3 separate regions of the Homo sapiens genome follow, and regions 1 and 3 are each linked to region 2. The links come from fine-mapping of genetic effects on gene expression. A gene starts in region 2. Each other region holds a variant in brackets. All regions are shown on one strand. Distances are from middle to middle.

What was found. PIP is the estimated chance that this variant, and not a neighbour inherited with it, causes the effect.
Region 1: its variant is the best candidate, but not a certain one, in a credible set for the expression of SNRPN in monocytes after LPS (Kim-Hellmuth 2017, PIP 0.53).
Region 3: its variant is the best candidate, but not a certain one, in a credible set for the expression of SNRPN in monocytes (TOPMed, PIP 0.62).

Annotation. Positions count from the first base shown.
Region 1 is chr15:25,038,508-25,041,271 of GRCh38, forward strand. All of the region lies in intron 23 of SNHG14 (small nucleolar RNA host gene 14), which reads left to right. Among named protein-coding and RNA genes, the nearest start is that of SNORD109A, 2.1 kb to the right of the region's middle. The variant TTA/T (reference allele first, on the strand shown) is at 1,555.
Region 2 is chr15:24,953,471-24,956,234 of GRCh38, forward strand. It overlaps SNRPN (small nuclear ribonucleoprotein polypeptide N), which reads left to right and starts at 1,517. Exons shown (of 10, transcript NM_003097.6): 1 at 1,517-1,592. It overlaps SNURF (SNRPN upstream open reading frame), which reads left to right and starts at 1,517. Exons shown (of 3, transcript NM_001394334.1): 1 at 1,517-1,592. The coding sequence starts at 1,579. All of the region lies in intron 4 of SNHG14 (small nucleolar RNA host gene 14), which reads left to right. RefSeq lists enhancers at 1,932-2,497, 2,498-2,764.
Region 3 is chr15:24,914,902-24,917,665 of GRCh38, forward strand. All of the region lies in intron 3 of SNHG14 (small nucleolar RNA host gene 14), which reads left to right. It also overlaps a transcript of SNRPN not described here. Among named protein-coding and RNA genes, the nearest start is that of SNRPN, 39 kb to the right of the region's middle. The variant A/G (reference allele first, on the strand shown) is at 1,275.

The DNA of each region.
Region 1 (2,764 bases), 85 kb after region 2:
TTAATTGCCTAAGTTATATAATTGCCTGAGGTTATATAACAGAAAATTCTTGTTTTTAAGAAATTAAAACAATTTAAAGGATAAAGGGATAATGTCATAGCTGTAATTTTCCAAGCATTTGGATAAAATAATATACATGTTTCAAAAAAAAAATGAAACAGATGTTGTAAGATGTTAGCAAATAGGGAATCCAGGTGGAAATAATCCAGGAATTATGGATAGTCTTGTATCTGTTCAGCAGGTCTGAAAGTAGTTGATGAAAATAATGCAAAAGAACATGTCAAAAAGAAATGGTTTGGGCATATGGCTTCAAGCATACATAAATGCTCAGGAAACATGAAAATGTGAAATAAATGGATGAGTACTATAATACCAGCAGGCCTTGTAGATACCTGCATTTGAAGCATTTATATTAGAAGGAAGCCTTTTTACCCAGAATTTTTTTCACTTAGCCTAATGTTTTCAAGGTTTGGCCATGTTGCAGCATATATCAGATCTCCATTTTTTTTGATGGAGGAGTGATATTCTATTGTATAAATATATCACATTTTGCTCATCCACTCACTAGTTTTTGGCTATTATGACTAATCCCGCCAGGAATATTTATGTGGAGGTTTTTGTGTGTTTATGTTTTCAATTCTATTATACATGAGAATATAGTAACTGTGTTTATTTGACATTTTGAGGACCTGTCTGTAAGTGATGTTTAAGATAATTTTTGTTACATTTGAAGGCAGATAATAGTCTATGCAAAATGAATATTCTGTTGAATATTGATGTGAACTATTCTTATTGTAAAAAAAAAGTTACATTGAAATAGTAAGTATAGAAGTTATATCTTGGTGGCGGGGCGTGGTGGCTCATGCCTGTAATCCCAGCACTTTGGGAGGCCGAGGCAGGTGGATCACAGGGTCAGGAGATCGAGACCATCCTGGCTAACATGATGAAACCCCATCTTTACTAAAAATACAAAAAATTAGCTGTGCGTGGTGATGAGCGCCTGTAGTCCCAGCTACTCAGGAGGCTGAGGCAGGAGAATCACTTGAACCCAGGAGGCGGAGCTTGCAGTGAGCTGAGATTGTGCCACTGTACTCCAGCCTGGGTGACAGAGCGAGACTCTGTTTCACCCAAAAAAAAAAAAAAAAAAAAAAAAAAGTATTGGTTTTTGTACTCAACAAGCAGTTTTATGTTTTTATTTTTCAGGAACTCTCCAATACTGAATTCAGGCTGGGATATTAGAGAAAAGGAAAATACATGAAACTCAGTGGTGTTTTATGGCACTTTGAGTTCCCCAATTCACCTTCAAACATTTAGCCTTCCAAGTTCTCTGCCACCGTATCAGTGCATCCCTCCTGAGATTCTTAATTCTTTGATTGTGTAAAGATGGACTATGCTTACTCCATCTTACTTCTCTTAGGTCTTACAATGGAAGTGCCCTATTACATTTTGTTCTTTTCTATGATTTCCAATTATTTTATGAAATTTTTCATTTATTTTTTCTGTTCTTTCTATCTTTAATTTCTATGTAACTTTTTGAAATAGATCTCAAAGATT[TTA/T]TATATATATATATATATATATATACACACACACACAGAGAGAGAGATATATATCTACTGTACTATTGAAGTAGATTCCTAAAGTTTTTATCTCTTCTAGAATATTGGTTTCACAACACCCCTATTATGTGTATTTAATTTTACCCACCACATGGCGTTTTCAAAAAGTCTTTATTTGGCGGAATACAACTTCAGAATCTGATTCGAAGAGAAAATTGCTCACAGCCGTGAGCCACTGTGCCTGGCCGATTTTTACTATTTAAAGAAGGAAGAATTTTAGCAGCGTGGGGTGGCTCATGCCTGTAATCCCAGCACTTTGGGAGGCTGAGGTGGGCGGATCACTTGAGGCCAGTAGTTCAAGAACAGCCTGGCCAACATGACGAAACCCCATCTCTACTAAAAATACAAAAATTAGCCAGGCGTGGTGGCACGTGCCTGTAGTCCCAGCTACTCGAAGGCTTAGGCAGGAGAATCGCTTGAATCAGAGACAGGGAGGCTGCAATGAGCCGAGATTGCACCACTGCACTCCAGCCTGGGCGACAGTGCAAGACTCCATCTCAAAAATAAAGAGGAATTGGAGGAGGAAATAAATGAATAAATGACAAAGGTGACAAAGGACCAAAGATCTGTGACTTGTGCAAAGATTGCTCTGTGGTAATTATTACAGAAACAATGTTTGTATCTTATTTTTTAGGGAATTTTGTATATTGTCTAATCTGATTTACTTTGTTTTTAATAGTTTGCTGCAGGTCTAGAAGATGTCACAGAATTTCAAGGAAGAGAGGTGAGCAGCTGCTGTGGTGATTTTGAAATTGTTTGTGTGTGTTGTGGCCAGTGATGTCAGAATTTCAGGATCTGAGAGTTCATGATTTTAGAGGCTCAAAGGAGAATATTTTTATAACTTTTTTCTATAATTTTTTTATAATTTTTTTATATATTTTTTATAATATTTTATAATTTTTTTTGCTATGTGAGTATCCCTACTTTGTTCAAGGAATCTCATTATCTTTTCCCTTTTTTTAAAAAGGGATTTTTTTGTAGTAACCTGAATAAATTGGGGGAAGTATTGATATATTTCCTTTTCTCACCATTTTTTGTTGGATGAAAATAATCTTTTAGTGAAATTCAGTGTATTAAATATTTATTTTTTAAAGTCTAGAGATGGGGTCATGCTGTGTTTCCCAGGCTGCCCTTGAACTCCTGGGCTC
Region 2 (2,764 bases):
GTGCCATCACGCCCAGCTAATTTTTCTGTTTTTTGTAGAGATGGGTTTCACCATGTTGGCCAGGATGGTCTCGATCTCCTGACCTCGTGATCTGCCCACCTCGGCCTCCCAAAGTGCTGGGAATACAGGCGTAAGCCACTGTGCCCAGCCTACATTTTATTTTTCGATTGACTCCCGTGATCAGAGTCAACTTCCCATGTTATTTTATGTGAATATGTATCAATGAACTATTAGAAATTGCAATGTTTTTGTAGGTCAAAACAATTCAATATTGACAATTTTATATGATTCAGCCTAATACATCATTTTTTCCATCAGCCATATTGCATGTTATTATTTATATATACGTTTATTTAGTTAGCCTATCTGTTCTCTGTGAGGAACATTACACAGTTTCTGAGATTTTGTTACGATAGAAGTCAGCATTGATAAGCCTCTGCGCACCTGTTTTAATGTAGGATCATTGGGAACTGAGCAGTAGCTTACAGGGCTTGGGAGGGGATTTAACCATTTAGTCAACCTCCACTCACATCACCCTCCCTTCTTCGATAATGGGCAATTGAGAAAGGGCAAATGTGTGTAAAAACTATGCAGATGCAGTTTCAGGATTATTTTCTTCTTTTCTGCAGTGTCTTTTCCCAAGCTACATCAGCGTCTAAATTTTGGAGTTACTGATGCTTCCGTTATTTCTGCAGATAGAATATTATGTCGTAAATAATGTTTACTTGTCCATTAGTATTATATAAAAGTGCCTGTTTCTCCCCACTCCAGCTATCATTGATTATTGGTAAAAATTTTAATGTATCCAATTCTAATAGGCAAAGAAAGGCTCTCCTACTTAGATCTTAGGTGGGGGTCTAAGTTCATATTTTTGTTTTACAAAAATTGAATAGCCAGTGTTTTTGAGTTGAATGATCTATCCATTCCGTATAGGAGAGTTTAATTATATTGTGATTTTGGGGGAGATAATTTTCACAATTTACCCCCTCAAAATGTAGAAAGTAGAAAAAGGGTAGAAAAATCGCACCAAATTTGAACAATGTAGCATGCTTTTAGAGTTAGGGATATTTTCTTTTGGAAGGATTTCAAGTCTGGCGTATTTGCATTGATTGTGGTTATGGCGCATTTAACTTTTCCAAACCAGCTTTTTTGTACCGCACATAGGAAGACCTGAGGGTGAGTGTAAATTAGGATTGTTTGGCCAGTGGTGTGTGCAAAAATTTATTGTAGAACCAAGAATTATTTCTTTAGTATTTTACACATTTTAAAAAACAGGTAGACATGTCCATTGATCCCAGGTTGCTTATGGTTTCTAGAGGCCCCCTCTCATTGCAACAGTGCTGTGGGGCCCTAGGGGTCCAGTAGCCCCCTCCCCCCAGGTCATTCCGGTGAGGGAGGGAGCTGGGACCCCTGCACTGCGGCAAACAAGCACGCCTGCGCGGCCGCAGAGGCAGGCTGGCGCGCATGCTCAGGCGGGGATGTGTGCGAAGCCTGCCGCTGCTGCAGCGAGTCTGGCGCAGAGTGGAGCGGCCGCCGGAGATGCCTGACGCATCTGTCTGAGGAGCGGTCAGTGACGCGATGGAGCGGGCAAGGTCAGCTGTGCCGGTGGCTTCTCTCAAGAGACAGCCTGGGGAGCGGCCACTTTTATTCATCAGATATTCCAAGTTTTTAGGACTTGGAGTACTGAATAAACGGAATTTGGGCCCTAAAGTCCTTTGTTCTGGAGAACCAGATCCGGAATGTTCAGAGGCTTGCTGTTGTGCCGTTCTGCCCCGATGGTATCCTGTCCGCTCGCATTGGGGCGCGTCCCCCATCCGCCCCCAACTGTGGTGTCGCGACAGGTCCTATTGCGGGTGTCTGCGGTGGGAAGGGCGGTGGTGACTGGGAGCATGCGGGGTAACCGCAGTGGGCAAGGGACATGGGTGGAGGTGGGTACATCAGGGTGATTGCAGTTCCGTGTGGCGAGGGTACGTGGGGGGACCAGTGCATAGGGATTTTAGGCGGAGGTAGGTATATTGGAGTGATTGTGGCGGGGCGAAGGTACGTGAAGTGATCGGTATTTAGGGGGTGTTGAGCGCAGGTAGGTGTATAATAGTGACCACTGCGTGGTGGAGCAGGGTACGTGGGGCGACTGGGGGGGGAATTCGTCGCAGTGACCGAGGCGAGGAGGCTATGGCAGTGGACCAGGGGGATGAGTCGGTGTGACAGTGGTGGGGGTTGTGTTGGTGGTCGCGGCGCGGGGAGAGTCCGTAGGAAGTGGCTGGGAGGTAGGGGGAAGGCGGCGACAGTGGGTATTGGCGGCGGTGGGCATTGGCAGCGGGTAGGCATGGCGGTGGTGGACTTTGGCGGCGGTAGGCATGGCGGCGGTGGGCATGGCATGGAGGCGGTGGGCATGGCGGCCGCGGGGCCTGTCGCTGTCCGGAGTGACTAAGGGACGCTGAATGATTGCTGTGTAGAGGAGGGGGCATCAGAAGGGGCAGTAGCACAGTCCGCAGCCTTTAATTTTCCTGTGACCTGCGATGGTCATCTGGTTTGCCTACTGTGGTGGTGGTGCTTTTTTATTAAAACTGCGCAATGCCTACACTGCCGCAGGGGCTGCAGAAATGCGTGGAATCCTTGCGTACCCTTTAGGAACCCTCGCTTTAGAGGCTATGGCATAAGAAGACTGGAATGATGTGCAGAACTTGCATTTACAGATCTTTTGACTGATAGGCCAGGTGATGCCTGGGGGTTACTTTTTTTTCATTGTTTCTCTCTGTTGGGA
Region 3 (2,764 bases), 39 kb before region 2:
TTATAACCAAGAAGCAGGGTTGGGGTGTAGTGGGTGAAGGAATGGAAAATTACTAAAAGGAAACATCAGGGATAAGGGGGATTCTGGCTAAACTGACACCTAACAAGATTCTTGTTAAAGATGGGCCAGAGTGGTCATGTATCACTTGGAAGATGGTGGAAGATGAACCTGATCAGATATCAAGGGTGATCAGATATCAAGGAGAAGAGGGTTCTTTTTTATATTTATTTATTTATTTATTTTTGAGACAGAGTCTCGCTCTGTCATCCAGGCTGGAGTGTAGTGGCGTGATCTCGGCTCACTGTAACCTCCGCCTCCTGGGTTCAAGTGATTCTCCTGCCTCAGCCTCCTGAGTAGCTGGGATTACAGGCGTGCACCACCATACCCGGCTAATTTTTGTATTTTTAGTAGAGATAGGGTTTCACCATGTTGGTCAGGCTGGTCTCAAACTCCTGACATCGTGATCTGCCCGCTTCGGCCACCCAAGGTGCTGGGATTATGGGGGTGAGCCACCTTGCCCGGCCGAGAAGAGAGTTCTTGATAAACAGACTTCCTTGTTAAAACTAGATTTTATAATGAGGTCCACAGATGGGTGGAGGAGAAGCCTGAGTAAATTTTGGTTAAGCAGAGAAACTTTGTCATCCCTCCTGTATGCATTATGCTCCCTTTTCTCCAGTGGAGCTCTCTTCAACCTTGATGTTATTGTCCAATCAGTTTGTTTTCCCAGTGTTGATGTTCTGATTTCATCCTACAAAAATATAGCATAAACTTGTATTTGTTGCATTCTACAACATAAGCCTGACAATATAACAAACTGTTCCCAAAGTTATAAATTCCTCGTCTTTTTATTTGTAATTTGACTTTTAAAAATCTATGTAATTATAGAAGAATGTTGCTACTATAAAAATTTTAAGGGGTGGCAGGGAATAATTCCAAAATTATAAAACTCCTTGTGACAAATTTAGGAATGATATTCAGCTAGTTCTATAGTTTTTTATTCCTTGAATAATCAGCGATATACATCTGATTATATACACACATTGTGGTTTTTTTTTGGCCAGGTTGACTTTTTTTTTTTTTTTTTTTTTGAGATGGAGTCTCACTCTGCCACCCAGGCTGGAGTGCAATGGCACAATCTCGGCTCACTGTAACCTCTGCCTCCCGGATTCAAGTGATTCTCCTGCCTCAGCCTCCCATTACAGGCACCCGCCACCAAGCCTGGCTAACTTTTGTATTTTTAGTAGATAATGGGGTTTCACTACGTGGGCCGGGCT[A/G]GTCTTGAACTCCTGACCTCGTGATCCACCCACCTCGGCCTCCCAAAGTGCTGGGATTACAGGCGTGAGCCACCGCGCCCAGCCTTGGTTGACTTATTCTTTTAAGGAGCAATGTGGGTTAATGTTTCAAAGTGAAAAAATTTAAAAACTTAGGGGAAAGTGGGGGGAGAGAGAGACAAAGACAGAGACAGAAAGAGAGACAGAGTGAGAGATGGAGAGAGATCAGATAGGTACATAAGCTTAGTGACTCAGCCTGTAGTCCCAGTTACTTAGGAGGCTAAGGCAGGAGGATTGCTTGAGCCCAGAAACTCAAGTTTTCAGTGAGCAGTGATCTGCAACACTGCACTCCAGCCCATGTGATAGAACCAGATCGTCTCTAGAAGAAAAAAAAAGAAGAAAAAAATACATATACATACATACATTGGTGTTTGTTTCTACATATGCTTCATAGTATATGTGTACATGGATTATAGGTAGATCATATAATGGTAACAGTATTAAATTAGGTGTCAGCATTTGTTGAGGAAGTAGTACGCTCGTGTTTGAAATTTTAATTAAGAATTGTGTACGGAGTTGGTTCCTTCCGGTGGGTTTGTGGGTTTGTGGTCTCACTGACTTCAAGAATGAAGCCACAAGCCTTCTGAACCTTCGTGGTGAGTGTTACAACTCTTAAAGGTGGCACAGACCCAAGGAGTGAGCCGCAGCAAGATTTATTGTGAAGATCGAAAGAACAAAATTTCCACAGCATAGAAGCAGACTGAGCAGGTTGCCACTGGTGGCTGGGGTGGAGTGGCCAGCTTTTATTCCTTATTTGTCCCCACCCATATCCTGCTGATTGGTCCATTTTACAGAGTGCTGACTGGTCCATTTTACAGGGTGCTGATTGGTCCATTTTACAAACCTCTAGCTACAGAGCATCGATTGGTGCATTTTTACAGAGCACTGATTGGTGCATTTTACAAACCTGTTGTAAGACAGAAAAGTTCTCCAAGGCCCCACCTGACCTACGAAGTCCAGGTGGCTTCATCTCTCAGAATCAGCTTTTAAAGGCCATAAATTTCCAGGTAAGTAGGAATAGAAGAAATGAACATTTCCTTTGAGATCTATGATGTCATATTTTTTTCTCCATCAACGATTTAGTTCCTTCTGGATCAAATACTTTTTAAATGGATGTATGTTTTATAGTAGATGTTATGTTGTCTTAATTATTTTAAAACTCCTATTCCTGGACTCTCCTGAAGAGGAGAATTTAGTAATTTCGAAGTATTTTTTGAGGCTAGGGAAGAAAAACCAAGATTACTGCATAAGGTTTCAGGGGATGTTCCATGCCTGCCACCTGGTGAAAATGAGGGAGCTTTCCTCCTACCTGCCACCATTACACCTGCCTGCAGGTAATAACGCCATCATTTCAACGCGGCCTGGGGTATTCTGGGAAGGTGACGTGTGGGGGCGCAGTGACCGCTAGCAGGGGCCAAACCCGCCCTGGTCTG